7 separate regions of the Homo sapiens genome follow, and regions 2, 3, 4, 5, 6 and 7 are each linked to region 1. The links come from fine-mapping of genetic effects on gene expression. A gene starts in region 1. Each other region holds a variant in brackets. All regions are shown on one strand. Distances are from middle to middle.

What was found. PIP is the estimated chance that this variant, and not a neighbour inherited with it, causes the effect.
Region 2: its variant is the best candidate, but not a certain one, in a credible set for the expression of FARP2 in skeletal muscle (FUSION, PIP 0.58).
Region 3: its variant is the best candidate, but not a certain one, in a credible set for the expression of FARP2 in regulatory T cells (Schmiedel 2018, PIP 0.64).
Region 4: its variant is the best candidate, but not a certain one, in a credible set for the expression of FARP2 in whole blood (INTERVAL, PIP 0.74).
Region 5: its variant is the best candidate, but not a certain one, in a credible set for the expression of FARP2 in monocytes after R848 (Quach 2016, PIP 0.81).
Region 6: its variant is the best candidate, but not a certain one, in a credible set for the expression of FARP2 in CD4 T cells (BLUEPRINT, PIP 0.55).
Region 7: its variant is the best candidate, but not a certain one, in a credible set for the expression of FARP2 in whole blood (INTERVAL, PIP 0.57).

The regions. Positions count from the first base shown.
Region 1 is chr2:241,354,054-241,358,354 of GRCh38, reverse strand. FARP2 (FERM, ARH/RhoGEF and pleckstrin domain protein 2) reads right to left here and starts at 2,070. Exons shown (of 27, transcript NM_014808.4): 1 at 1,967-2,070. RefSeq lists a silencer at 1,733-2,282.
Region 2 is chr2:241,305,178-241,309,478 of GRCh38, reverse strand. All of the region lies in intron 1 of HDLBP (high density lipoprotein binding protein), which reads left to right. Among named protein-coding and RNA genes, the nearest start is that of HDLBP, 8.3 kb to the left of the region's middle. RefSeq lists an enhancer at 1-75. The variant TG/G (reference allele first, on the strand shown) is at 2,507.
Region 3 is chr2:241,480,561-241,484,861 of GRCh38, reverse strand. It overlaps FARP2 (FERM, ARH/RhoGEF and pleckstrin domain protein 2), which reads right to left. Exons shown (of 27, transcript NM_014808.4): 20 at 1,329-1,397; 21 at 531-620. Among named protein-coding and RNA genes, the nearest start is that of MIR3133, 4.8 kb to the right of the region's middle. RefSeq lists enhancers at 818-1,318, 1,319-1,819. The variant C/T (reference allele first, on the strand shown) is at 2,411.
Region 4 is chr2:241,398,174-241,402,474 of GRCh38, reverse strand. The region is part of intron 2 of FARP2 (FERM, ARH/RhoGEF and pleckstrin domain protein 2); the gene reads right to left. Among named protein-coding and RNA genes, the nearest start is that of FARP2, 44 kb to the right of the region's middle. The variant T/CTT (reference allele first, on the strand shown) is at 2,246.
Region 5 is chr2:241,249,363-241,253,663 of GRCh38, reverse strand. It overlaps HDLBP (high density lipoprotein binding protein), which reads left to right. Exons shown (of 28, transcript NM_005336.6): 10 at 167-271; 11 at 629-707; 12 at 3,684-3,823. Among named protein-coding and RNA genes, the nearest start is that of HDLBP-AS1, 21 kb to the left of the region's middle. RefSeq lists a silencer at 2,916-3,122. The variant T/G (reference allele first, on the strand shown) is at 2,016.
Region 6 is chr2:241,415,459-241,419,759 of GRCh38, reverse strand. It overlaps FARP2 (FERM, ARH/RhoGEF and pleckstrin domain protein 2), which reads right to left. Exons shown (of 27, transcript NM_014808.4): 8 at 1,651-1,798. Among named protein-coding and RNA genes, the nearest start is that of MIR3133, 60 kb to the left of the region's middle. The variant C/T (reference allele first, on the strand shown) is at 2,288.
Region 7 is chr2:241,284,772-241,289,072 of GRCh38, reverse strand. All of the region lies in intron 1 of HDLBP (high density lipoprotein binding protein), which reads left to right. Among named protein-coding and RNA genes, the nearest start is that of HDLBP-AS1, 15 kb to the right of the region's middle. The variant G/AG (reference allele first, on the strand shown) is at 1,653.

The sequences.
Region 1 (4,301 bases):
ATTTTTTCTCTACTGTTTTTTGTAAATATCCAGGGTTAGCTTGTTCTACTTTCTACTCGGATTATTTGTCCACCTGATAATAATAATGGCTAACATTTATTAAGCACTTACCTTGTGCCAGGCATCTTGTTAACACAGCTTTTTTTATTTATTTTTTTATTTTTTTGAGACAGAGTCTCGCTCTGTCGCCCAGGATGAAGTGCAGTGGCACAATCTTGGCTCAATGCAACCTCCACCTCCTGGGTTCAAGTGATTCTCGTGCCTCAGCCTCTCAAGTAGCTATGATTACAGGCGTGCGCCACCAGCCCAGCTAATTTTTGTATTTTTAGTAGAGATGGGGTTTCGCCCTGTTGAGCAGGCTGGTCTGGAACCCCTGAGCTCATGCAATCTGCCTGCCTCGGCCTCCCAAAGTGCTGGGATTACAGCCACTGTGCCTGGCCAAGTAAATTTTAAACTCATTTTTTGAATAAGGAACCTGAGGCAGAGAGAAATGAATACACCTTATATCAACTTCCTCTTTGGGAAAGGAATTAGTATACAAGGAACCTGGAAATTTACTAACGACTGATAGTCCTATAGGTAAATAAGCCAGCAAACGTCTGCAGTCCAGGAAACTGCATCATCAGCATTTAGTTTGTTAACAGTGAACCACCTAATGAGAATCTGCAACAAGGATAGGGCACATGAGAAGTACAGATGGTATTTGCAAGTACCCTAGGTGTGACCCTAAACTGGTCATTCCACCTCTCTCAACCTCCCTTTCCTCTACTTTAAAACGGGGCTGTGCAACTTGGTCATGTCTCTGAAGAGTTTTGGAAAACTGAATAAATAACGAGCATGAAGTGCTTCCTAAACCTTTAAGGACCTCAAAAAACAAAACAAAACAAAACTTTCAACAAGCAGATGTAGAAAATTTAAATTATATTTGGCCTACAAGTAAAGGTTACTCCATGCTTCCCTACCTCAAATGTCCTCTCCCATCTCTCTGGTACTGAGAAAATCTGTGTCGCCTGTTATAAGGCAGTCTACACAAGACCAACACGCTAACCCACTGCCACCTCAGGGTTATCAAACATTTACACAGTGGCCCAGACAAAAATATCCCACGGAAACAAAACAAAAACAAAAACCCAGAGAGAAAAACCACCCTTTAAAGATTTGGCCTTGGGTTTTAAATTTGCCCATCCCTTTTTAACACTATGTATTGACAATCTTTCCTTCAATGATGCCTTGTTCTAATTTCTGCTTTTCACATCCATTAATGGCACATGATAGGCCAGGGGTTGCTGCCATAGCGTAAACGGAAAAGGTGCCCGTAATTCGGGTGTGTAATGTACTGGGCCATATTCTGGTCCCCAGTTTTCATGGGTTTCCCAAAGGCTACCCACTGGCTTATGAGTATTTCTAGCCCTTAGTGGAGTAAAAATATTAACACCTAACACTTGATTCCCACCTTTAAGATACAATTTAAAGAAATGCTAAAAAGGCAAACGGCTCAAAATGCCTCCACCAGGCACCTCCAGGCCCATACCCTGCGGGTCCCTATGGCCCACTCTGGGGTGTCCTTCCGGGATGGGACACTCCCCGGCCCACGGCCCTGCCGGCCTCCACGGGGCACAACTCAACCCGCGAGTCCACGCGGGACACTCCCCGGTCTACAGCCCCACCGGCCTCCTCCACGCGGCACCCCTCAACCCGGGAGTCCACGCGGGCCACTCCCCGGCCCACCGCCCCGCCTGCCCCCACGCGGCAGGCTCCCTACAGACGGACGCTCCTCTAACCCGGACCCGCCTAGGAGCTCCAGCCGCCTCACGATGGCCTTCAGAGGCCGGGCGGGACCATCTCTGGTGGACCGCGGCCTCAGCGCCCCCCCCGCCTGGGCCTCTCGCCTCGGGCCTCGGGCTTCGCCGCCCACCCGGAGAGGCCCACCCCTGCCCCACGCGCCCAGGCCGCTTCACGTCCTCACCCTCGGCCTCTCGCTCGCCCGCCGCGTCCTCACCGGCCTCGCCCGGCCTCCGCAGTCGCAAGCAGCAGCCGCCAGACTCGCGTCGGCGTCGCCTGCTCCCAACTGCCCGCCGGCAGCCCCCGCGCAGCGCGCCCCGCCCTGACCCCGCCCCCGCGACGCGGACGCGCAGTCGATTGGCCTGCGGGGCGCCAGGGCGGAGCCTTCCCGTCCCGCGGCCTGAAAGCGCAAGATCGAGTTCTGATTGGTGAACGGACGGAGAAGGGGCGGGAGCAGGCAGGCAGCTGCGTAGGATATAAATCTGTGCAGCGCTCGGCTCGTTGGGCGGGGCGTCGGCTTGCTGAGCGAGGCAATGTCCTAGGCGAAGCCAAGGCTCGCTGGGCGGGGCTAGATCTTGGGCGGGGAGTCGGCTCGTTGGGTGGGGCTAGGTCCTGGGCGGGGAGTCGGCTCGCTGGGCGGGGCTAGGTCCTGGGCGGGGAGTCGGCTCGCTGGGCGGGGCTAGGTCCTGGGCGGGGAGTCGGCTCGCTGGGCGGGGCTAGGTCCTGGGCGGGGAGTCGGCTCGCTGGGCGGGGCTAGGTCCTGGGCGGGGAGTCGGCTCGCTGGGCGGGGCTAGGTCCTGGGCGGGGAGTCGGCTCGCTGGGCGGGGCTAGGTCCTGGGCGGGGAGTCGGCTCGCTGGGCGGGGCTAGGTCCTGGGCGGGGAGTCGGCTCGCTGGGCGGGGCTAGGTCCTGGGCGGGGAGTCGGCTCGCTGGGCGGGGCTAGGTCCTGGGCGGGGAGTCGGCTCGCTGGGCGGGGCTAGGTCTTGGGCGAGGTCTAGGCTCGCTGGGCGCGGATAGGTGCTGGGCGAGGCCTAGGCTTGCTGGGCGCGGATAGGTGCTGGGCGAGGCCTAGGCTTGCTGGGCGCGGATAGGTGCTGGGCGAGGCCTGGCTCGCTGGGCGGGGATAGGTCTTGGCCCGGGCCTTGCCGGCTGTCCTTGCACCCTTTGGCTCAGTCCCTGGCTGCCAGCCTCCTCCTTCCTCCAACGCATTGCATCCCTCGTGGGACTACAGGGACCGAAGGGGATCATCGAAGGATCGCGCGAGGCTGTGCTAAGGCTGAGACAGGCTGCTCCGTGGTGGCGGCCAGGACGGCCTTCCTCTGGCCTAGGGACCCCCACCCGAGAATGGAAGACTGACTTGCTGTGGCACACTTCCCTTCTCTTGAGAAGTTCATTGAACTCCTATGTGTTCTTCAAGACCCTACCCATCGTGCTCTCCTAGCCCGGCCCTGTCACCCACTGTCACCATGTGGCTGTTGAGGGAATAATTAACTTCAGGAAACACCCGGGCACTTAAGAGACTCCTCCTATGGTGCTGTGGATTCCAGAGTGAAACCTGACCCTTCGTTTCCCAGAAGCCCAGACAGGAGAAATGCTGGCTCAGGGGAACCTCCATTTCTCCTGAGACAACTATGGGGTCTGAGACCCAGGCACACCAAGACTGGGCTCAGCTGTGCGGGATGCTCCCCTCATGTGCCACCCACCTCTGGGGCTTTTCCTTTAACCAACCCCCAATGACACCACCAGGCCCAGAGTGGTGCACACACCCCAGAACAGAGGATCCCTGCCTGCAGACGGGCAGGGCCGGGTGGGGATAGTGCAGGTGAGAGCCTGGCCAGAGGGTGGTACTGACCCCTGGTAGGATGCAGGGTGTGTGCTGGTGACCTGAGGCTGGCAGTCTGGAGGGAAGGCAGCAGGCGTGGCAGCTGTCAGCTGAGGAACTAGAGAGAGCAAGTTTCAGTATCCAGGGGTCTGTCTATAAGGAAGCTCAGAAAACACTGATAGCAAGGTAAAAGGGGCCCAAGGTGGTCCTGGGATGATCAGTCCAGTGGGCAGGAAGAAGGCTAGAGGCCTTGGAGTGTAGGTGTCCAGCCACCCAGATCAATTCAGGTTTCCAGTTTCCTTTACTCAAGTGGCAGAGCCGCCTTAGCCTATTCTTGAAAATTTATAGGTTAGAAATTTCTTCCTAGATATATTTCAATCATTCACTTATATTTCCAGTAATTTAGTAGTTGCTATTATCAATGCGATTTCTTTTCTCACTACATTTTCTAATTAGAAAATAGATATCACTGACTTCTTAGTGTTAATTTTCACCAGATGTCTTGTACTTTCTAAGTAGATGTTCTGATCACCTGTAAATAATTCCTTTCCAATCTTTTGTGCTTTCTTTTGGGCTGGATCTCCAATACGTACAAACTTGTCCAGTACTGACACTATTGATTCAAGTAATTTTTCTTGATTTTATACAAAGATGTTGTCAAGACTTTGAATTTTCCCAGAAAACCTCACAACTTTCCC
Region 2 (4,301 bases), 49 kb after region 1:
TTAATGTTCTTATCTCTATTCTTATTCTTTGCTTTCGTGATTTGTATCTTAAAAAAAGAAAAAATCGTTTACTATCATTTTAGTGGTGCTTCACGAAGTAGTGTAAATGTATTGATCTGACAACGGCTCGTGCTGGAGACACTGTTCCAGGAAGTGGGACACAGTAAGGAAAATGCAAGTGTGTTCTCCTGCACTTTCACGGAGGTCACGTTTTGGTAAGCGGTGTCAGGCAGTCAGCAGACCAGCAGATATGCAGTATGTCCAATGTGGACAAGAAGAAAGGAGGAAAATAAAGTATCGAGGGGAGTGGAGTGGGGGACACAGTGGCAGTTTGGCATAGTGGGGAGGCCTTGCTGATTGAGCGACAGTTGATTCAAACTTGAGATGAGCAAACAAGCCATGGGCAGCGATCTGGGGAAGAGCGTTATAAGAGGAATGGACAGGAGGTGAAAAGCACGGGGGCAGGACTGTGTTGTGCACGTTAGAGGAATGTGGAACACCAGTTATTAGACCAGTGTGGAGCAGGACCAGAGGGTGTAGGAGACGGGCAGGTCAGGGAAGAAGCCGGGGCTCCTAGCAGTCGGATCTTGATGCCTTTGGAGAGCTGGAGCAGAGTGACCCAGTACTGGTGGTGGATCGTGGTGAAGTGACCATGGGCCACACCATTCACGACATTTCTTACTTTTCCTGTCACCTGTAGGAGGCAAGTATTGTTGTTATCACAGGTCGAGGTAGACCCTGAGGCAAAGGCTAGAGTTAGTGGTTTGGCTCCAGTTTGTGCCTTCAGCTACTTCACTGCTTCCCTAACCTGGCCTTGTCAGTCAGCCTCAGTCTACCATCTACCCAGGTCTGCATACCCCGCAAAACAGTATACACTTTGACGCTTTTCTGCAAGCACAATTACCTTTTGGGGGAGCCCTTCTCTTAAAGCAGAGTAGGTTAATGTTTGTGAATGAAACGGAACTTTGGCAGGCTGAGGTGTCTCAGGTCATCAGCTTACGTTGTCTACTGTGTGACTAATTGAGGCAAAAGATGTCCTTTTTAATAGTATTTTCTCATCACTTTTGCCTGGGTGCCCTTTAGGAATGTTATTTTTGGCATACAACTTGAGTTTCACTTAAATTTATAATTCTTTCTGTTCATTCCTACTGCTCTGTTGCCCAGATGTGGATTTTGCTTTGTCTCACAAGCGTTGCTGAAACACTGGTAGAAAGGTGGACGACGGATTGGTTGTGATTAGTTTGATCTTCACAGTACAGAAATTCAAAAGGTCAATAAGCTCAACAAGATTGCTGTCTCACTGATGATCAGAGTTGCCATTAAAATCGTATTTCCCGCACATCAGGCTGGAAAAAAGAATAAACATGATCATTTTAGTTGTCCTCAAAGGAGAAGAGGACAGGTATTCTGTAATCAGGTGTTGTGAGTGTAACTAGTTAAACTCTTTGGGAGGTGGGCAGTTTTACCTTGGCAATATCTATCAATGCATTGCCTGTCATCATATAATTCCATTTCCAATTCAATTTATCCTGTGGGGGTAGAGGCCCAAGTGAGCAGAGGATGTTCTTTCCAGCATTGTTTATAATCGCAAAAAAAAAAAAAAATTAGTTCAAGGGTCCTATCAGTAGGGGATTTATTAAGGTATGTTTACTCCACTCAACATGTAGTTGTTAACAAATGAGGTAAATTTGTATTTGGTACTCGGAAAGATGGCCATGGTGTCTTTTCAAATGAAAATAAGTGTAGCAGATGGTGAAAGAATGCATGTAAGATCCTATTTTTATTTAAATCATGTATTAAAATTATAATTAAAGTATAATTAAAATTACAGTTTTGAAGATACAGTTTAGAATATATTTTTTGGTAAAGCCTCATGGGGGGGTTGCCAGTTTTTACATTGTTTTGTTGAGTTATCTTTTAGAATATTTTTAAAGCTAAAAAATCAAGTTCCTTGGTAGACCATCACTACAGCAAGCCCACTGCAGTATTAATCTATTAATACTGTCAATGTTAATTAAACCATTATTCGTGTAGCCCCTACCCATCCCATTCCAGTCTCTCAGGAGGCTTAGCTGTATCCCAGAGACCCCAGTGCTATGACCGCAGGTCTCTCCTGGGGCAGGAAGAGGTAAGAAGTGGCTGATGTCAAAGTCAACAGTCAGCAAGTGGCGTGAGCAGTCTCGATGAATTCTTTCAAATAAGCGTTTTTCAGATCCACTCTAGGGCTTGCCTTTTCCCTCTGTTGTAGTCTCAGAAGTTCTTGAGGTAGACCTTGTGAGACCTGCAGCAGTACTTGCTGTCTTAGGTACAGAAGGCAGGATATTGATTATTTCTCCCTGACTCAACAAAGAGTTGAGATGTTTATCCAGGTTAGGATGACACTGCCCCCCTGTCCCCCCCGCCCCCCAAAAAAGAAACAAAAATGAAAGGATGGTGTCTTTGACTGTACTGGGAGTCAGGAGACCTCACTTCAATTTTGGGCTTTTCCTCGTTTTTTTTTTTTTTT[TG/G]AATAGGTTCAGAGCTACTCCCTGGACCTGTTCTTATCAGCCTTATGACTTGGGGACTTGGGATACTTTTTTTTTTTTTTTTAATTTATTGAGACAGAGTCTCTCCCTGTCACCCAGGCTGGAGTATGACAGCATGATCTCCGCTCACTGCAACTTCCGCCTCCCGGGTTCAAGCAATTCTCCTGCCTCAGCCTCCTGAGTAGCTGGGACTACAGGCATGCACAATAGTAGAGATAGGGTTTTGCCGTGTTGGCCAGGCTGGTCTCGAATTCCTGACCTCAAATGATCTGCCAGCCTCGGCCTCCCAATGAAGTGCTGTGATAATAGGCATGAGCCACTGCTCCCAGCCTGACTTGGGGTACTTTTTGACCTGTAGGATTTCAGCTCCTTTCTTTTAAAAATAAGAAAGCTGAGGCCAGGCGCAGTGGCTCACGCCTGTAGTCCCAGCACTTTGGGAGGCTGAGGCGGGCAGATCACCTGAGGTCAGGAGTTCGAGACTGGCCTGACCAACATGGAGAAGCCCCGTCTCTACTAAAAATACAAAACTAGCCGGGCGTGGTGGCTCATGCCTGTAATCCCAGCTGTGGGAGGCTGAGGCAGGAGAATTGCCTGAACCTGGGAGGCAGAGGTTGCAGTGAGCCGAGATCACGCCATTGCACTCCAGCCAGGGCAACAAGAACAAGACTCCATCTCAAAAAAAAAAAGCTGAATCTCTGAGTGGGTTTTTCATTTTTCATTTTTTTTTTTAAACAGATGCCTCAGAACCTGGGTAACTCAGTTTATCAGAAATTCAGTTTTCAAGTTTGGAAGGATAACACTTGGAGCTGGTAGTCACTCATAAAACATCTGATTTTGTGATCACGTTTAAGAATCCATGAATGATATAAAAATCCTCACCTATTAAAACTTTTTGGCCGGGCGCGGTGACTCACACCTGTCATCCCAGCACTTTGGGAGGCTGAGGTGGGTGGATCACGAGGTCAGGAGATCGAGACCATCCTGGCTAACACGGTGAGACCCCGTCTCTACTAAAAATACAAAAAATTAGTTGAGCATGGTGGCGGATGCCTGTAGTCCCAGCTACTCGGGAGGCTGAGGCAGGAGAATGGCGTGAACCCGGGAGGCGGAACTTTGCAGTGAGCCGAGATCACGCCACTGCACTCCAGCCTGGGCGACAGAGCGAGACTCCATCTCAAAAAAAAAAAAAAAAACAAATAAACAACTTTGTATTCATTGCTTCCTATATACTAGTCATCACGCTATTTATTTCTAGCAGTGGTTATCACCAGGGTGATTTTTGTTACCCAGGGCACATCTGGCAGTGTCCAGAGACCTTTGTGGTTGTCGTGACCTACAATCATCTGGTGGTTGTGGCCAGAGATGCTTACATCCTGTGGTACACAGGGCAGCCCCCGCAACAGAAGTATTCGACTCAAAATGTCAGCAGCGCTGAGGTTGAGGAGCCCTGCTGTAAAGGGTCAGTCCTTGAAAGGGCTCTAGGGTATAGCCATCACAGGCCCCGTTTTTTTGGTTGGAAAGAGTAGAGCCTGGCCAGGTCCGGTGGTTCACGCCTGTAATCCCAGCACTTTGGGAGGCTGAGGCGGGTGGATCACCTGAGGTCAGGAGTTCGAGACCAGCCTGTCCAACATGGTGAAACCCCATCTCTACTAAAAATACAGAATTAGCCGGGTGTAGTGACACATGCCTGTAGTCGCAGCTACTCAGCAGGCTGAGACAGGAAGATAACTTTAACCCAGGAGTTGGAGGCTGCAGTGAGCCAAGATCGCGCCACTG
Region 3 (4,301 bases), 130 kb before region 1:
AGCCTCTAGAGCTGCATGAAAGTCTCCCCATGACCTGAGAACAGTATTTCTATTGAACACAAAAAGCACTAACCACAAAGGACAAAGTTGATGAACTGGATCATGCTAAAATGAGGAATTTCTCTTCCCATCCCAGGCATGTGCCTACATGGGACAGAGGGCTGGCATGGATGTCACACAGGTGGCACAGCCTGAGGAAGATGCTGCTGCAGAGGCTGACTCTAAGCTTGCGGGGAGCAGGCCTTGTCCTGCCAGGTGCTGACAGAGACCACAGGCTGAGTCCAGGTTTCCCTAGAAGGGAACCATGGACTAGAGACAGGGCAGTTTGAGCATCAATAACAACAATGACCATGAGGGTCAGAAACAACCAACAAGAAATGCCCAGCAGGTGCTGCTCCCAGTGCGGCCAAATACTCAGCAGGTGCTGCTCTCAGTGTTGCTGGGTAAGGATTCGCCTCTGCAGGAGAGAGGTAGGTGGGGCCCAGCCCAGCACCACGTGGAAATCCCAGGCAGGGTGCAAGACCACTCACCAGCATGCCTTGGAGGGGAAGGAGGCCCCGGATCCGGAAGTGGCTGGTCCCTGCAACTCCTTTGCTTGTGTACAGCAACATATCTGAGAACTGAGAAGCAGCAAGCTTTACATCCATGAACTTCACAAACAAGTGTCTTAATAGTCAGACCAACTTGGACTCTGGCTGCTCATCATGTGGACATCAGATCTGTGCAGCTTGCTGGAGATTTTTGGCAGAAAGGGGACTTTTATTCATTCATTTGGTCGTTTTTGACCAGAGGCAGGAAAGGGCCACAGGAACCAGTGCATCTGCTGGGTCAGCTCCCAGCTAGCTTGGCTGAGAAGCTGGAGGCAGTAAGGAATTCTGGCTGGTGCTGACTCAGTTACCTCCTCATCCACATGTTTCAGGCTGGAACCCACTAACTGGTAGGAACAAGGACATGCTGGGAGGGGCTTCTGAGCCAACAGTGAAACTGTCCCGACTGGCCATTGGGCCATCAGTAGCACCTTCTTGCAGCCACATGTATGTGGACTTTACAATCTTTTGGCTTCTGTTTGTCCCATAGTCAGGTGCTCAGAACCTGGAATGAAGAAGGAGGCTGGCCCTGGGGTGGGTGGGGAAGCTGTTTTCTGCTTCTTCCCACTCTGTGACCCTCCCCTGGCCCTGTCTGACTCCAACGCTACCCACCTGGACCAAAGCCTCCAAGTGCTAAACTACCCAGAGGCCAATGGGCTGCCGCTGCAGGCGATGTCCCTAACAGAACTGCTGCCCATCCCCCTCGGGGGGAAGCACAGCTTGAGTGGGGAGAGAACCTACCAGAAAAAACATCCTCTGCTGCAGGCCCTTCTTGGTGAGCTTGTGAAGGCAGCCCTCACGGATGAACTCCTGAAAGACAGAGACAGAGTCCCCTTTCAGCGGGCTGAGGGCAGCTGGCGGATGCACTAGCCGGGCTGAGGGTCAGGAATAGCCTTGTGGCCGCTTGTGCTCCTCTGGCTCCTCCCAATGAGGGTCCTCTAGTGGAGCCTCCCAATGGGGCTCCTCTACCCTCAGCAGTGCCCTTGGTCACCAGGTCCTGTCTTGGTGCCAACAAATTCAGTCCTCAAACCATCTACTGAGCACCTGCTCTGGGCTAGGAGCCCTGGAGCCCTGATACAACCAAGAGGTAGAGCCCGGAGTATTGTTCTTGCTGAGGAGAAGCTTCTGGAAGGTTCAGCCACAAAGATGTCATCTGAGATCAGCTTTGAAAACATTGGACAGGAGCAGGTTCGAGAATGGGAGGAGGAAAGGAGGGTTCTCCTAAGTATTCAAATTAGCACCAGGAGCAGGTTCGAGAATGGGAGGAGGAAAGGAGGGTTCTCCCGAGTATTCAAATTAGCACCAAGAGCAGGTTCGAGAATGGGAGGAGGAAAGGAGGGTTCTCCTAAGTATTCAAATTAGCACCACCTCGTCCACCACAGGGCGTTAGATAAGAAAAAAGAATCCTGCCAGTATCAGACACCTGCGCAGATAGGGTAAGCGAGAGTCCTGGGAGCCCCTCAGATTCCTAACCTGGACTGCTCTGGAGCCCTTCCACCATCTGTTCCTTTCAGACAAACAGGAGGAGCAGCAGGTGTCCGGAGAATGTGCTAGGGGCCTCCTAGTATGAGCAGTCCCAACATACTGCGTGAAGGCAGAAGGAGGAGCACACTACACAGATAATCCTCACAGAAACGCAGGATGAAAAACCAGCCCAAACAGAAACGTCCACCCCACACAATGAAGAAGGTGGTCATATGGATGCATTTGCGTTAACTGGATGGGGCCGGTAACTAAGCTTGTGGCTCTCACTCCACATCTGCCTCCTAGCCCTACTCTGAGAGGCCACAGGGGCGTGACAGGGAGCCCTGGAGACCGCACGC[C/T]GAGGTCCCTGTGAGCTGCTGGCAATTGCTTGGCCCTGGGAGTGGCCGTTCCTTCCAGCCACAGGTAGCAGCATCACCCTCAGAGACCCCAGCACTGGCTAAGCAGCAGCCCCCTCTCCAGAGCTCCCTCACAGGATGTGCGTCCCAGACCCACGGGGCGCCTTCTCCACCATGCACTGGCCCCGCTGCCAGCTGTGAGGCTCAGCACCGTGGGCCTTTGACCAAGCTGTCAAATTTGTTCCCCAGCCCTAGGGTAGTAACTGTGGCTCACAGTTCTGCCACCTCCCTGACACTTCACAGTTCTTTTTACCCTTTGGCACCTCATCAACTTTATACCTGGTTAACAATCCTTGCTATTACATCCTCTGCTCAAATAACTGGCATGGTTTCTGTCTGTTGACTGACACACATATTTAACTCAGGAAGACAAGAAATTCTGGGCTATCCAGACATGACTTTAGAGATTTTGACTAATAATAACAAATTATTATTTGAATTTGCACAGCATCTACTTCATGCAAGGCCCAGGGCTGAGCAGCTGACATAGATTCCCTGTTCATCCTCAAGACCTCCTGCCTCAGAGAGGGGGCGCAGCCTGCCCAGGCCACATGGGAAGTGTGGAGAGCCTGAGTTTGATGCATGGCTCAAGAGCCTACACCTTTGCCTATGTAGCTACTCTCAACTGTCTTTTCATTGACAGTTCCCTGGGCCACCATCTATAAGACCCAGTGACAGTTCCCTGGGCCACCATCTATAAGACCCTGCACAGAGGTTACTAGGAGAAATAACACTATGTAACATGAGCCCTACTTCCAGGAGTTCCCAGCCAGCAGCAACAGCTCAAAGCTATGCAGCCAAGGAGAGAAATGAAAGAGTGGTGGTCCTAGCACCTGATCAAAGCCCAGACTCCCAAAGTGGGGAAGGTTTCCTGTATATTACAGGCTAATTCATTTCTCCAAGCTTGCAGTTCCACATTTTCAATACCTTCTTCTAACAAGGCTAACACAGAACATGATTCATACACATGCTTCAATGAACATGTGTGTGCAGAGACAGGAAACATCTCCATGTAATTTTTAAAACAATTTTTTATGTTGAGAGTATTGAGTTCAAAGCAAAAAGTACTAGTGACAGAAAGTAACTGGCCCAATGGACATATAGACCATGGGATAGAATCAAGAGTCCAGAAATAAATCCATATGTTTACAGTCCATTTATTTTTTTGTTTTTGTTTTCACTCTGTTGCCTAGGCTGGAGTGCAGTGGTACGATCACGGTTCACTCTAGCCTTGACCTCCTGGGCTCAAGTGATCCACTTGCCTCAGCCTCCTGGGTAGCTGGGACCACAGGTGTGTGCCACCATGCCAGGAATTTTTTTTTTTTTTTTTTTTTTTTTGGTAGAGACAAGGTATCAGTATGTTGCCCAGGCTAGTCTCAATCTCCTGGCCTCAAGTGATCCTTCTGCCGTGGCCTCCCAAAGTGCTGGGACTATAGGCTTGAGCCACTATGCCCAGCCCCCATTGAACTTCTACAAGGGTTACATGGCAGACAGTTCAATCAATGCTGCCGGGAAAACTGGACCTCCACATGCAAAAGAATGAAGTTGGACTCCTACCTTCCACTATACACAAAAACTAACTCAAAATGGATCAAAGATTTAAATGGAAGAGGTAAAACATAAAACTATTAGAAGAAAAGAAACAGAAGGGTAAATCTTCATACCCTGGGTTAGGCTTTCTTTCTTTCTTCCTTTCTTTTTTTTCATAAATACACAGTTTTGTTTGCTATTTTCAGGGGAAACTTAGGCATTCAACTATAAGCTGATAAAATACCATACCTAAAAAAGTATAAAAGTATAAATATCCCCTTAGAATAAATTTTAGTGAATTGTC
Region 4 (4,301 bases), 44 kb before region 1:
AAGTTATCTAGAATCACAATGGAAAAAGTTACAATGTTTTATTTTGCTCTTATTAGATGAAGATGTACAAATGGCTACTATGCATTTAAAAAGATACTAAATTTCTTTAATAATAAAACAGTAAGATATTTTTCACCCATCAAAGAGGGTTAGAATGATGATGCCAATATTGGTGTGTCTGTGAGAAACAGCCACTTTCACAGAGTGCTGGGAAGAATGTAAGTTCATATGACCTGATAATTTGAAAACACCTTTGAAAATTTAAAGTGTGCATTTACCTTTGCCCAGTAATTCTACTTCTAGAACTTTTTCCTACAGATACTTTCATACAACTGTACAGACCTAAACATGTTAAGGACAAATTCAGTAAAGAATTGGTAAAATAGGCCGGGCACGGTGGTTCATGCCTGTAATCCTAGCACTTTGGGAGGCTGAGGTGGGTGGATCACCTGAGCTCAGGAGTTCGAGACCAGCCTAGCCAACATGGCAAAACCTTGTCTCTACTAAAAATACAAAAATTGGCCGGGTATGGTGGTGCACGCCTGTAATCCCAGATACTCAGGAGGCTGAGGCGGGAGAATAGCTTGAACCCGGGAGGCGGATGTTGCAGTAAGCCGTGAGCCAAGATTGCGCCATTGCACTCCAGCCTGGGCGACGAGCGAAACTCCGTCTCAAAAAAAAAAAGAATTGGTAAAATAAATAATGACATATCCATAATGGACAACTATGCAACCCTTAAAAAGAACACAGAACTCTCTATTGTGTTATCATTGAAAAAAGTCTACAACACATAGTTTAATTAAGAAAAAAATAAAAGGGACTCTGGGCATGGTAGCTCACGCCTGTGAACTCAGCAACCTGAGGGAGGAGGATTGCTTGAGGCCTGGAGTTCAAGATCAGACGGCACAACAGAGACCCTGTCTCTACAAAAGATAAAAATTAAAAGGAAAAAGAAAAAAAGGCCTCCATTTCTATACAATGTATAAAACGATTCCATTTTATTAAAAACACATATGCCCCATGGATACATTTATATGTAATAAAAATAAGTTTGGAAAGCTGTTCACTAAATCTTTAAAAGTAACCATCATTAAAGAACTAAGCAGAGGTGGAGGTGGGGCAAGAGCATTCTTACTTCTTCACTTCTATAACATCTCAATTTTTAACCAATAGGCATATATCATCTTCACAATTAATAAACAATATGTGCAAACTGGGGGAGGCAAATCTCATTGTTCCAAAGGACATTATGGCCCTTGAGGTTTAGTCACCAGATTCTCACTGTGTAAGAAATAAAACCTTGCAAATCCATTGTAACAAAGCAGCATACGGAATGAAAGTACAAGGAACGCCTCTTTAAAATGGAAAGGTGAGCTACGAAGTGACCTGACATTGTACATACAATTTCTAAAGAACAAAAGGGCAAATCTGTGTTGAACTTGCTCTGACATAATCTCTTAGGGCCTTCTCCAGTAAGAACTTACTCTGATGCCTGTGGGCATCTGGGAGGAGGCATGCCAGCGCTCCACATGTGGTCCATCAGGATGGGGAGAATGCAGCCAGACCAGGGTTTCTGAGACTGTTAACTAGTCAGAAATTATGAACCGTGGAGTATGCTGCACTAACTCACTGTGGGCCCAAACAACCCTATGAAGTTCTTTCAAAGCCATACTGTCTGTCCACACTTCCATCCAGGATCACCAGGACAGTCCTCCTCATGACTCTCCCTGAGTCAGTACTTGGGGTGGGGAGGCTACATACAACCAAGTCCCTCACCCTGATACAGCCTCACACTACCTGGCTTCACCTGAGTGCAGGGATAATGACATGCCCAGGCTATTCCCTTAGAGAAGAATTCTCTCTCACTTCCCTTCTATCAGTCTCCAGTGAATGCTTTGAGAATCTGATAAAAAGTCAGCTCATTTGTGGTCTCTCTTCATCCAGTCAATTCTACCTAATTACACACCAGTTGGTACTCGACTCTAGAACTGCCCTTTGGCATTGCTGCTGACTGTGACCCGTTTATTTGTTTGGGTGTGTTCCTCCTACCAGATGGCAAGTTTAAAGGGCAAGGACTGCACCTTCTCCATCCTAGTAGCTCCAGCTCTGGCTCACAGGAGAGGCACCACACACGGCCAGATTCCCGGACTGTCCACCACTGCTCCTGATTCTGACGGCTGTTGTGGGAGCTTGAGTGTGCACTTCAGGTGGCACAGAGAATATGAAATTCTCTTAGCTGTACCCT[T/CTT]TTTCAACTACCTGGCTGCCCCTGTGAGTCAATGGGGAGGTCAGGGTTCCCCGTCCTACCTGAGCCCCTGCACTGCCTAGAGTAGTGCAGCCAGAGTGTGCTCCAGGAGCCCTGCCTGACTACACTAATGAAGGCGATAGACACTAACCACGCAGGTGCAAGCACATTCACAAGGCACCTGTTAACCAGCAATGTCCAACACCCAGGACAGGGTTTGTAAATACGGGCACAAAAATTCACAGTTATATGGGTATTTGTATATATACACACAAACAAACATATGTATGTGTGTTTAACCTTCAGTACAGGGAGGATGATCTTTTCATGAATGGTGCCAGGGAAACTGCATATCCATACAGGTGAAAATAAGCACTGACTCCAACCTCACACCATGCACAAAATTAATTCAATATGAATCACGGAAAGGCACAACAATAAAGCTTGGGGTAGGCAAATATTTCTCAAACAGGACACAAAAAACACTAGCTCCCCCACCCCCAAAAGACTGATATCGACTACCTGAATATTACAACCTTCTGTATATCAAAAGACACTGTTAAGATAGGAAAAAGGCAAGCCACAAAATAGAAGATAGTTGCAATACAAAAACCCAACAAAGAGGCTGGGTGTGGTGGCTCATGCCTGTAATCCCAGCACTTTGGGAGGCCGAGGCAGATGGATCATGTGAGGTCAGGAGTTTGAGATCAGCCTGACTAAAAATACAAAACTTTCACTACTCTCTACTAAAAACACAAAAATTAGCCGGGTGTGGCGGCGTGTGCCTGTAGTTCCAGCTACTTGGGAGGCTGAGACAGGAGAATTGCTTGAACCTGGGAGTGGAGGTTGCAGTAAGCTGGGATCATGCCACTGCACTCCAGCCTGTGCGAGAGAGCTAGACTCCGTCTCAAAAACAAACAAACAAACCCAACAAAGGTCTTGTAGTCAACATATATAAAGATCTACAAATCATAAGGAAAAACCAGACAACCCAATTAATGACAAATGGGCCGAAAGACTTAAATAGGCACTTCACAAAAGAGGATATTCAAATGTCCAATAAACAACAAGAAAAGTTGGACAATATTACATCAAGGAAATGCACACTAAAACCACAATAAGATACCACTAGACCCTCACCAGAATAGCTGAGAATATAAAAATGGATAATCCTAATGTTGGCAAGAAAAGTAGAACATCTGGAGTCTCAAACACTGTAAATTTGTATTATCTCTTTGGAAAACTGACAGTATCTACTAAAGGTATACAGAAGTATACCCTATAACCTAGCAATTCCAGTCCGGGGTATAAACCCAACAGAAATATCTGTTTATAGAGACCTAAAGACAAATTCAAGAATGTCTGGTTGGATGCGGTGGCTCACGCCTGTAATCCTAGCACTTTGGGAAGCCGAGGCAGGCAGATCACCTGAGGTCAGGAGTTCAAGACCAGCCTGATCAACATGGTGAAACCCCATCTCTATTAAAAATACAAAAATTAGCCGGGCGTGGTGGCACAGCCTGTAATCCCAGCTACTTGGGAGGCTGAGGCAGGAGAGTTGCCTGAACCTGGGAGGCAGAGGTTGCAGTGAGCCAAGATTGCACCACTGCACTCCAGCCTGGGAGACAAAGCAAGACTCTGTCTCAAAAAAAAAAAAAAAGAATGTTCACAGAAGCTTTACTCATAGGAGCTCAAAACTGGAAACTACCAAAATGTCAATTAAACAGCAGAATGGATAAACAGTGATTTGTTTTTACAATGGAATACTACCCAGCAACGAACAAACAAGCAAACCACAGCTATACCAACAACACTGATAATTTTCACATAGTACATATTGTATTCATGTACCTGATAAATATATACATACTTAAATGAACCTGAAGATCTGGCAAAACTAATTTATAATGCTAAAGATCAAAACACTGGCTACTTTTGGGGGTCATAACTGAGACAGGCACAGGGAGCCTGTTCTACTCCATTCTCTGGGTGGGGATACATAAGTGTATACATATGAAAAATTATCAAGCTGCACACATAAGACACATGCACTTTCTTA
Region 5 (4,301 bases), 100 kb after region 1:
TCCCTTTCAACTTTGTTTGATGGCTGTGGATATGTCCCTCCCTCCCTCACATCTATGTGAAGCAGTTTGGGATCAGAAGCCGCTCCGAAGAGAGCTCCCACTGGGAGCTCAGGGGCTGCAGCTGTGCCATTCTGTTTTAGCTATCTCTTTGGTTTTGGTGTGGTAGGTTCACATCGAGTTCACAGAGGGCGAAGACAAGATCACCCTGGAGGGCCCTACAGAGGATGTCAATGTGGCCCAGGAACAGATAGAAGGCATGGTCAAAGATTTGGTAAGGTACCCCTTGGAATGTTGTGTGTGCTGGTGACAAGGGAGGCTCTGAGTTGGGCATGGGCGGTCATCTCTCGATGACATCCCACATGTCCGGGCACAGACACCCAGGGCATCCTAGCTGGGTGAGTAATAGGTTCTGAAACAACCAGAAGCTGGTCGAAGTCCTGGAATAATCGTGGGTGGAGGAAACTTCATCTTGAAGAAGGCATCTTTCAGGGGAGATGCAGGGGCAGTCTCCAACAATTCCTGACAGCTGAGTGGTCAGAAAAGGCAACCGTGGAGACTGCTGGGTTTTGGTTCAGCTCATTGGCCAAGTAACCAGGCGCATCCATGGACCTCTGTGCTCCTCCTGCAGATTAACCGGATGGACTATGTGGAGATCAACATCGACCACAAGTTCCACAGGCACCTCATTGGGAAGAGCGGTGCCAACAGTGAGTGAGGCTGTCTGTTGCGGTGGGGCCAGTGTGCCCTGAGACCCTTGTGGGGGGTGTCAGCTGTGAGAACTGTGACGTCCGTGCAGACAGTCCAGGCCCATTGCTGCCTGTAATGGGAGTTACAGACTTTACATCCTCCTGCCTGCTGGAAGAGGCCACTTTTCCTTTTCCCTTTGGTGCAGTGGTTGGATTAGAGCTGCTTGGCCAGTGGGTGAATTGTCACTTTTGGAAATCCATCTAAGCCCTCCCCAAATAACCCACAGAGGCCATGTTGAAGGCATGCCCAAGGGCAGCATTCTCTATATTTCCGTCAGACCTGCTAGGTTAGCCAATCAGTGTTGGTAGTACTCATGCCTTCTGAACGTGGAAACTGCTGATCTGGAACTCACTGAAGAGTAAAAACATTCTAGATTTGTGCCCAAGTAAAACAACATGGGGAGGGATACTTTTTTGAGACAGGGTCTCACTCTGTCACCCAGGCTGGAGTGCAGTGGCGTGATCTCAGCTCACTACAACCTCTGCCTACCGGGCTCAAGCAATTCTCCAGCTTCAGCCTCCTGAGTAGCTGGGACTACAGGTGCATGCCACCACAGCCAATTAATTTTTGTATTTTTAGAAGAGACGGGGTTTCACCATGTTGGCCAGGCTTGTCTCAAATTCCTGGGCTCAGGTGATCTGCCCACCTTGGCCTCCCAAGGTGCTGGGATTAAAAGTGTGAGCCACCACACCCAGCAGGGGGATTCTGTTGAAGAGGCAGTGATATGTCAGCCAAGGTCGCTATATGCCTCACCTGTGCCAGGTTGTAGGTGTAGCACAGTTACAGGACACTGTTGGAAGTATGTCATGTGGGCCAAGGTCGCTGTGTGCCTCACCTGTGCCAGGTTGCAGGTGTAGCACAGTTACAGGATGCTGTTAGAAGTGTGTCGTGGGCATTCTGCTGCAGGTCCAAGGATGTTTTGTGTTGTTTGTTTGTTTTTTGGGACGGAGTCTCGCTCTGTCACCAGGCTGGAGTGCAGTGGCGTGATCTCAGTTCACTGCAACGTCCACCTCCCAGGTTCAAGCGATTCTCCTGCCTCAGCCTCCCAAGTAGCTGGGATTACAGGCGTGCACCACCACACCCAGCTAATTTTTTTGTATTTTTAGTAGAGATGGAATTTCACCATGTTGTCTAGGCTGGTGTCAAACTGCTGACCTTAGTTGATCTGCCCACCTCGGCCTCCCAAAGTGCTGGGATTACAGGCATGAGCCACTGTGCCCAACCAAGAATGTTTTTTTACACCTCTTTGTTTAACTGTATGGCTATAC[T/G]CACACACTCGCGTGTTCTGAAAACAAGTGCACACGTCGCGTGTGTTACCTTTGGGTGGAAGGTGAGAAGGCAAGCACGTCCTCCATTCCTGGATAGTTCAGTGGATGAAGGAGCCTTTCCCAGGTAGTGGGACACCGACCTGCATAACATGACTGACGTCCGTGTATCCGTTTTTGTTATGAGTAAACATAGCCTTGGCAGCTGTGCTGTGGCCTGTGCAATGGTGAGCTCTCTGGTGTCAGTCTTATGTTTTGTGGGCATTTTACGTGACAGCGACGAGAGTCTGTAGGCACAAAGTGACCTTTTTGCGCACTACTTGAACCACACATACACCATAAACTTGCTTTTACGGTTTTGTTTTGGTTTTGGTTAACTGTAGCGTTTGTTTAGGCCTGACACGGTGGCTCTTGCCTGTAATCCCAGCATTTTGGGAGACCAAGGCAGGAGGATCACTTGAGCCCAGGAGTTCGAGATGAGCCTGGGCAACATAGTGAGACCCCTGTCTCTACAAAAAAGAAAAATTTAGCCAGGCCTGTGGTCCCCGCTGCTCTGGAGGCTGAGGCAGGAATATCACTTGAGCCCAGGAAGTCAAGGCTGCAGTGAGCTGTGATTGTATCGTGCCACTGCATTTTAGCCTGGGTGACAGAGCAAGACCCTGTCTCAAAACACATATATATGGAAGTACAGTAGTGTAAATCTAACATTAATTTCTGGTTTCTGCCCCCGAGAAATTGCAGAATGTAGCTTAGTCAGTCATGTCTGTTCTGTTTTCTTCTCATGCAGTTCCTAACTCTTGTCTTCTTTCGTAATCTAAAAAAACCTGCTGCCCAGCTCCCATGTCCTCTGCTTCTCTTGTCTTGTGTTGCTTCACCTGGCACAGCTGCATGTCCATGTTCCCCCCTCAGTGCATCGCCTCGTTGCTGCCTCTGCGTGTGCATGTGTTTGGGATGGACGCACAAAAAGCCCTCCTCGTGGTCCTTCCAGCAAGCTGGGCTTCCCTTTACTGCACAGTGGGCAAGATTCCTGCCTTGTTTCCTGATGATACGGCTTCTCCAGAGTTTGGGGGGCCTGGAACTCTTAACTTGGGGGTACTGGGTTCTATCCAGAGAGGTTGACAGCAGGAGGGTTTGCAACAGCACTTGTCTTGCAGACACAGTGAAGTGCTCAGTGTGAATCTGAGCCAACAGTAGATGGGGTCTCTGGGCAGCAGCATGGGCCCCACAAGGCTCTTAGGCGTCAGTGAGTGCTTTTGTGTGGAGTTAATGTGTGTGGTTTTTTTAACTTGAGAATAGTAGTTCCCAAACTTACTGCACATTAGAAACACCTGGAATCCTTCAACTATTCTGAAGCCCTGGCCAATACCCCAGACGAGCTAAATCCCAGACTGAGTGGCCCCAACCGTCAGTTATTTGAAGGTCTCGGGGCATTTCCAGCTTCTGGTCCAGGCTGAGAGCCTGTCCTCCAGAACCCTTGTGATCCAGGTGAAGATCATAACTGGCCCCCATTCTAGACAATGGAGATTTTTGTTTGGGAAGCTAAGCATCGTTTTTGGTGATGGGAATCACAGATAAGGTTATTTAGCGCTTTAGCGCTGTCCTGCCCAGTTATGTCATTGGCAGAATGTTGTTGGTCTGTGTCCTAAATGTGTTTCCTTTTGTGTTCCTAAGTAAACAGAATCAAAGACCAGTACAAGGTGTCCGTGCGCATCCCTCCTGACAGTGAGAAGAGCAATTTGATCCGCATCGAGGGGGACCCACAGGGCGTGCAGCAGGCCAAGCGAGAGCTGCTGGAGCTTGCATCTCGCATGGTAAGTGCCATGGCTGGGCCCTCTAGAAAGGCACTGGCCTTGCGTCTCTTGGCCCCCTCTAAGGAGTAGCGTGTTGTGGTGTGCGGCCTTAGAGAATGGAAGTCGACAAATCCCACGTTGCACTGGAACCGGATTGGACTCCCTGGGGCCACATTTCCTTTATCCTCCCCAGGTCACCTGCACGTCTTGTTCTCCATGGCTGTGTGCTGTGCTAGAAGGGCACAGAGACTGTGTGGCAGCGTCTTGGCCTTGGCCACACCCTGGGTGCCCAGATGCCTGGGTACCATCTCCAGAGATTGTGACAGACATTTCTGGATTCTCAAAGGCATCCCAGGTGGTTCTCATGTAAGGCCAGACTCGAGGATCACTGCAAACCTGAAGTGGGGGCTGTTGCTCTCTACCACCTGGCAGAAGCACTGCACTGCTCTGGGCTCCCCGACGTTTCATACATGCTTATGCCAAGCTGTGAGCACCCTTG
Region 6 (4,301 bases), 61 kb before region 1:
ATTCCTATTTCTCATAAGCATGAACTGTGAGCCCTTTCTGGGGCTCCTGGGAACATGTTGGCTTGCACTGTGACTTTGCCGCTGAAGGCTGTGAGATTCCAGCCTTCCCTACTCTGCAAAGTCAGGTCCCACTCCCTGTTTCATTTCCCAGCTTCCAAACATTGCTGCTATCCTCATCTTTCGTGGGCTGTTTTCCCATTCTTTGTTCTTACGGATTTAAATGTTTAAAAAATTCCTTCAACTGTCATTGTGTTCAGGGTTTTGAGGGAATAAAAATAAATACATATATTCAGTCTGCTATCTTCAAACTGAAGTTTCTAATCCCTTGCTTTTACAACTTCTTTAGGTTGTATTATTTGTTTTTTTCTGGAAATGTGGCAATGGCTCAGTTTGGATATGAGGTTTTCATCTCTGTGCAATGGGGGAACACTCATCAGCAGGTGTAGGCAGGGGATGCTCAGACCCTCCACCTGAAGGCATGGATTGCTAAGGCTGGTCTCTATCATGGATTTTTATTGCTCTCTAATCACATTTAGTATGAAATGTAACATAATACTCTAAATTCAAAATTAATTTTTTTTCTGACAGGAAATTGAAACTTGATGGCTAGGTTAAGAAAAATAAGGAAAAGAAAACAATAATAAACATGGCTTGATGAGGGAGGCCTGAATCAGACCAAGCTCTTTTTGATAGTCACAGGTTAAAAGAGCCCACAAAGAAACAGCAGCTCATGCAGGCAATGGGCTCCCAGACTGCAATAGTGACAATTCCCACAATATTCAGCATTGAGGAGACCTTTTCAGGATTACCGTAGTCTATCAGAGGTGCAAAATTTTACAAGGGCCAGTGACTGGAGTGCTCCCAAAAGGAGGGGCCCAGACAAGTTGGACATATTTAGCCTGGGTGCGAGGGGACTTGGGGAGCCCCCGCAAGAGCTTTCTTCAGATATGCAAAGGGCCTGAATAAGGAGAAAAGCTCCTTCTAGTCGGCACTAGCAGTCACACTTAAGCTTCTTGGACATCACAAACCCCAGCATACACACACATAACCACAAATGGAAGTGAGCAGGCCATGCCCACCATTTATGTAATTATTTACCTATGCATCACAACTAATACAAACACTTCAGAAGACAACACTGACTCTTATCACAAGCAATCCCTCTGATATTTTCTATTCTATTCTAGTTTGTTTACTGAAATGATTACTGTAACCCACTCTAAAGCGCTCACAGTCCAGCCCAGATCACATCCACAGCACAGAGACTGCTCCACTGGAAAAAAAACAGGGTTGTGGTTTAGGATCCTAAGGGGGTAGGCCGAATCCCAGGAGGGAATGCGAAGTCCCAGAGGCAGTGGGCAGCCCTGGGGGGCAGGAGGCAGTGGGGAATCCAAGGAGGCGGGAGGCAGTCCCAGGAAGCAGTGGGCTCCATGACATGGAGGACAGTCACACGTGTGTCAGAGAAGGACAAAAGATTAATTTTCCCACTGAGTAAGAGGTTGGATTGGATGATATGCAAAGCCCCTCTTCCAAATCGAGGCCCGTACTCATCAGGACAAATATTTACTAACATCTATAAGAACAAACCCCACCAGGTTGCAGAAAACCTCCCCTGCCCTGTTCTCACCCCTCCCTTCCCCACTGGCCTACCTGGAACACGAGTACACCCATGTGGGAAACTGCCAGTTGAATCTTGGTTCCTTCCCTGTCAGAAGCCATGTGAAATCTGATGCCGTACATTTCCAACTTTCGAGCAATTTCGAGCACCTGGAAATCCGACTCAGCAGGTGTCTGGCCCCTGTAATAAAAAATGGTAGAATCATACACTACAAACACTTGATTTCTGAAAGAGCCAAAATGCATTATAGAAGCGATCAGGAAAACCAACAATGAAGGCTTTGTGTGTTTAGAGGGCAGATGGTTCACTGTCTGTGTTTACCCACTACAAAAACAGCATACCACACGTGCAGGCCAAAGACATCCTCAGTTTTCTTCTATTCTGTAACTACTTTGTAACGGGTAGAACACTTTCTTTGCATACACTAGCTACTCAGCCTTACATCTGCTCCATAGTGACAAGGTTATACACAAATACTACTGGCAGAGACAAATTTTAATCAGAAGAAACACCACAGAGGGCCGGGCACAGTGGCTGACGCCTGTAATCCCAGCACCTTGGGAGGCAGAGGCGGGTGGATCACCTGAGGTCAAGAGTTTGAGACCAGCCTGGACAACATGGCGAAACCCTGTCTCTGCTAAAAATACAAAAATTAGCCAGGCGTGGTGG[C/T]GGAGGTTGCAGTGAGCTGAGATCATGCCACTGCACTTCAGCCTGGGTGACAGAGCGAGACTCCATCTCTAACAATAATAATACTAATAATAAAATGAAATGAAAAAGAAAGAAAATGAGTGTGACGGGATAGTAGTGTTATCTATGGTATTTCTTTTCTTTTCTTTTTTTTTTTTTGATGGAGTCTCACTCTGCTGCTCAGGCTGGAGTGAAATGGTGCAATCTTGGCTCACTGCAACCTCTGCCTCCCAGGTTCAAGCGGATTCTCCTGCCTCAGCCTCCTGAGTAGCTGGGACGACAGGTGCACGCTACCATGCCCAGCTTTTTGTATTTTTAGTAGAGACGGGGTTTGCCATGTTGGCCGGGCTGGTCTCAAACTCCTGACCTCAGGTGATCCGCCCACCTTGGCTTCTCAAAGTGCTGGGATTACAGGCGAGAGCCACTGCGCCCGGCCATCTCCTTTTCATCTTAAAAAATATTTTTTACTATCTGAAACACTTGTGTCTTATAAACCCGTTTTCTCACTCACTCACTCACTCACCCACTCACTCGCTCATTCGTTTAGAGACAGGGTCTCACTCTGTCGCCCAGGCTGGAGTGTAGTGGCATAATCTTGGCTCACTGCAAGCTCTGCCTCCCAGGCTCAAGCGATCCTTTCGCCTCAGTCTCCTGAGTAGCTGAGACCACAGGCACGCACCACCACACTTGGCTAATTGTTTGTAGAGACAGGGTTTTGTCATGTTGCCCAGGGTGTCTTGAACTCCTGGACTCAAACTTGTTGGCCTCTCAAAGTGTTGGGATTACAGGCATGAGCCACTGTGCCCGACTTTTCTCTCCAGTTTCAAAGATCCAAAAGCAATGTGATAAAGTCAAGAAAAACACTTCTTTAATATCCTATTCAGTGATTATAAAGGTGTTTTCAGTGGATCACTGAAGAACCATCAGAATCATAAGACAATGTAAGAAATGTATAATAATTAAAATAAAGGTACAATATTGTCTTTAAAAAAAAACCTGAAGGATTATCAAAAGAAATAAGATGTGCAACGAAGCTGTGGTGACTGTGACAGACACAGTCTCAAATTAACACAGTGAAGGCCTACAACGTAGAGCAGAGCTTCCTGCTTCCGGGCTTATTCGGCAAGAGTTCAACTGTATTCCCGTATGAAGCAGACCACATGGCTCACCCTTCTCGTACCGGCTTTCTAGGGTTTTTAGCGGATACATGTGCACATGTAAGGACACACACATGCAGAGACACAGGCACAAGAACATGTGCAAGTACACATAACCACAGTATACAATGTACACAGGAACACACATCAACACACATGAACATATGAGCCACACACAGAAACACACACAATGCATGCATAGGAACACATATACATGCACACACGACCACACAGCCACACATGTATACACAGAACACACCCAGACACACACACACACACACACACACACACACACACACACACACACAGAACTACCCTGAGGGTCCAGTTCTTTGTTCTTCCACAGGCAGGCTTCTCGACATAAGTGCCCAAAGATGTTGTCACTGCCTCCTCACTGCACTTTCAGTGTACTTGAATCTAGAATTCACCCTCACCACTCACTGAAGCTGCTGAAGGCGATACACTGCCACACTGCCAAGCTCAGAAACCTGCTCCTGTGCCTACCTCCCCAGGCCTGTAGTCTCCACACAAGAGGCTGTGGCCACTATCCTAAAACATGCTCTCTTGGCACCTGTGCCCTTCCATGCTTCTGGCTGCTAAAGGCTCTTGTGGGTGCCTCCTCCTGCACTCAGCCTCTCAAATGTCAGTTCTTCAGGGGTTCATCCTGGGCTCTTCTCCCTTCCTGACCTGTATCTGCCCTCTGCCTAGCTGATTTCACCCACTGCACAGGTTAGCCCAGCCTACGTGCTGACAACACTCTCCCCAGCATCCCAAACCCACCCATCCACTAGGGACTGTCCTTCAGGTTGGACAGTTCGCAGCACAATGCCCAATTCTCC
Region 7 (4,301 bases), 69 kb after region 1:
TTTCCACCCATGGCGTTAGCTAGCTTTGTATCCATAACAGAGTTCTTTATAAACATGAGCTAAGCTAATTCTAGCTCATAGAACTTTCCTATGTAAATTGTAGGAAGGAAAAAATCATCAAGTGTAAATTGTTGCCCTGGGTCAAACTTCAAATTATTTTGTTTCTTGTAGTTTAATGAGATTTATAGTGAGGAGATGGAAGGGATTTTTAAATTGCAGGACTAAAGGGGAATGGCCCTTCCTACAGCCATTCTGTTCCCATCCCCTTCCCAGGAACACCATTACAGTTGGGGTGGGGGCCTGCGTGGGCTTCAAGCCCTGGTGAGGAGTATGTGTGTGTGCAGGAGCTGCCATGAAACACCTTTCAGCGGCTCAGGGTGGCAGACTAGTGTTACCATGGCAGTTAGAGACATCAGTAAACCCATGGGTCATACGGATGCATTTCCACCTAGAAGCAGTGGTTTGTTTCTTCAGTGAGTCAAAGAAACTTAAGATGGAGGAGACCCTAAGGAGTCATGTAAGTTAAATGATCACCCAGTGGAGAGTACACTTCACAGTGGGAATAAGCTCTGCCCATTTTTTTTCCTAGGTGCTAATTCAGGAAAGCATGCTCACTCTTAGTGATCCTTTTCTTCATGTTGAGATGAAATGTGTCTTCAGAATTGTTCTTAGTTGTGCAGGCAACTGGACAGAACTCAGTCCCCCTTTAAATGCTCTCCACATGGTAAAGACAGCTCTTATGTATCTTGTTCTCAGTTTCCAAGGCTTGAATAGGTTCATGTAAAGTCATCACCACTTCCTCAAAAGGAAATTAACAAAAAAAAATTTTAATTCAGACGTCTTGCAGATAACGTGGCAATTGTAATGAGAATAGCACAGCAGAGAAAATAAATTTTGTGACTCTGTTTTTCACTGATTTGTAGTACCTGGTGATACTTAAGTGTCCTCTTTTCCCTCTCCAGGTGGAGGTATTTTTGTTGAAAAGTAAAGAGCCTCATATAATACAGAGCTTTCCCCTTCTGCTGATAACTCTCACAAACACTTAGCATATGTCCATCCATAGTTTCCTATTAAAACACACTTTGGGGGTATGTGGTGTAGGAATATGTGCCATTTTTCATGGTCTTCCCTCCCGTCTTCACATTCTACAGCTTCACAGCAGAATTGTCTTTTCAAGTCCATCTTTTACCCAGCTGTTCATGTTGATGCTTGTTGAGGACTGGGCTCTGGACTTCCTGTCCTTTTGCTATTCTCAATGACTTGAGTTTCCTTCTAGAGAGGTCTTATGCATGTACAAACATGTATATCTTTTAACACGACTGGTTACATATCAACGTAACACATAGCTGCAGGCCAGGCGCAGTGGCTCACACCTGTAATCCCAGCACTTTGGGAGGCCAAGGCAGGCAGATCACTGAGGCCAGGAGTTCAACACCAACCTGGCCAATGTGGTAAAATCCTGTCTCTACAAAAAAATATACAAAAATTAGCCAGGCATAGTGGCGCACACCTGTAGTCCAGCTACTTGGGAGGCTGAGGTGGGAGAATCGCTTGAACCTGGGAGGCAGAGGTTGCAGTGAGCTGCGATTGTGCTGCTGCACTCCAGCCTGGGCAACAGAGTAAGACCCTGTCTCAGAAAAAAAAAAAAAAAA[G/AG]AAAGAAAGAAATAGGCCGGGCGCGGTGGCTTATGCCTGTAATTCCAGCACTTTGGGAGACAGGCGGGTGGATCACGGTGTCAGAAGTTTGAGACCAGCCTGGCCAACAATGTGAAACCCTGTGTCTACTAAGAATACAAAAATCAGCCAGGTGTGGTGGCGCACGCCTGTAGTCCCAGCTACTCGGGAGGCTGAGGCAAGAGAATCGCTTGAACCCAGGAGGCGGAGGTTTCGGTGAGCCAAGATCACGCCACTGCACTCCAGCCTGGGCAGTAGAGTGAGACTCTGTCTCAAAACAACAACAACAAACTGCCTCTTCTTGTTCACTGACACTGGGTGTATGGTTAAAGCCCCCTTAACTGACCTGTTTTGAGGCACAGAGGTTTATTTAATCACCAGTCATTTGATACAGGGTGAAGACCTATTTGAAATGGGACTGGCTGGATTCTACATGTTTTCTTTTTTTTTTTTTTTGGAAACAGGGTCTTGCTGTGTTGTCCAGGCTGGAGTGCAGTGGTGCCATCATGGCTCACTGCTCAACCCCTGGGGCTCAGGTGATCCTCCCACCTCAGCTTCCACACTGAGTAACTGGCACTACAGGTGCATACTACCATGCCTGGCTAATTTTTATTTTTATTTTTATTTTTTATTTTTTGGTAGAGACAGGGTTTCACCATTGTAAACCCAGGAAATCTGACAAGTCTCAGTTAATTTAGAAAGCTTACTTTGCCAAGGGTGAGGACGCGCACCCGTGACCCAGCCTCAGGAGGTCCTGATGACGTGTGCCCAAGGTGGGCAGAGCACAGTCTGGCTTTATACATTGTAGGGAGACATGAGACATCAGTCAGCATATACAGGACGAACATTGGTTCGGTCTGGAGAGGCAGGATGGCTCGAAGCAAAGGCAGGAAGACTCCAAGTGGGGAGGGGACTTCCAAGTCACAGGCAGGTAAGAGACAAATGGTTGCATTCTTTGGAGTTTCTGATGAGCCTCTCCAAAGGAGGCAGTCAGATACGCATTTATCTCAGTGAACAGAGGGGAGACTTTGAAGAGAATGGGAAGCACGTTGGCCCTAAGCAGTTCCCAGCTAGACTTTTCCTTTTAACTTAGTGATTTGGGGGCCCCAAGATTTATTTTCCTTTCAGACTATGTTGCCTGTGTTGGTTTTGAACTCCTGGGCTCAAGCGATCTACCCACCTCAACCTCCCAAAGTGCTGGGATTACAGGCATGAGCCACCATGCCTGGCCACATACTCTCTTCTTATGTAAATGAAATTGATAATATGTCGTCTAGGATTTTCAGCATTCATTTAAGTGGAACAAAAATTTAAGAAACTCATAATCAGTGTAGATTCTCTGAGATTTTAAAGGTTTTCCTCCATTTGACTTTTTCTTTTAAACAAACAGGTCTTGCTCTTTTTCCCAGGCTGGAGTGCTGTGGCACGATTGTAACTCACTGCAGCTTCAAATTGGGTTCAAATGATCCTTCTGCCTCAGTCTCCTGAGTAACTAGGATTACAGGCACAGGCTAATTGTTTTTATTTTTTATTTTTTTAAGAAATGAGGTCTCACTTTGTTGCCCAGGCTGGTCTCAAACTTTTGGCCTCAAGTGATCCTTCTGCCTTGGCCTCCCAAAGTGCTAGGATTATAGGCATGAGTCACCATGTCCAGCCATAATTTTTTTAAGGCAACTTGTTTTTCTTGAAATTTCAGTGTGGTAAATTTAATATCCATAGATAAATTTCTCTTCACTCCTTCATTATTTTGAATTATTTCTAAATGTAGTTACATTAACTAGTGAAACTGGCATAAACAGGTTTGAGAGCAAGTAAAACTGAGTCTTACTAAGCACACATCATCACTGGTGGGGATCGGTGTTCAGGGCACACTAGAAGGCACTCTGCTCATGACATCAATTAATATTTTACTGTGGGGGTGGAGACTTGGTCATTCATCAGGTCGTTTATGGAGGTCAGTGATAGTGCTTTGTGTTCTGCCACCCTTTGTTTACCCAGTCCCGGACTGAACCAATGCAAATGTTTAATCTTCTGACTCTACAAAAATGCTACAGTGCACATCAGGCACACTGCAGAGACACTGCAGGTTTGTGATACCACCACAAGAAAGCCTGACATCCCAATAAAGCACATCACATGAGTTTTACGTTTCCCAGTGCATATAAAAGCTGTAACATGTTTAGAAAAACAATGGTATATACTTTAATTTAAAATAATGGTTAAGGCTGGGCGCAGTGGCTCAGGCCTGTAATCCAGCACATTGGGAGGCCAAGGTGGGTGGATCACCTGAGGTCAGGAGTTCGAGACCAGCCTGGCCAACATGGTGAAACCCCGCCTCTACTAAAAGTACGAAAATTAGCTGGGTGTGGCGGAGCACACCTGTAATCCCAGCTACTTGGGAGGCTGAGGCGGGAGAGTCACTTGAACCCGGGAGGTGGAGGTTGCAGTAAGCCAAGATCAAGACTGTGCCACTGCACTCCAGTCTGGGCAACTGAGTGAGACTCCATCTCAAAAAATAATAATAAAATATTGGTTAAAAAATGCTCATGATCATTGAGCCTTCAGCAAGTCTTAATCTTTTTGCTGCTGGAAGGTCTCGCTTTGATGTTGATGGCTGCTGACTGATCAGAG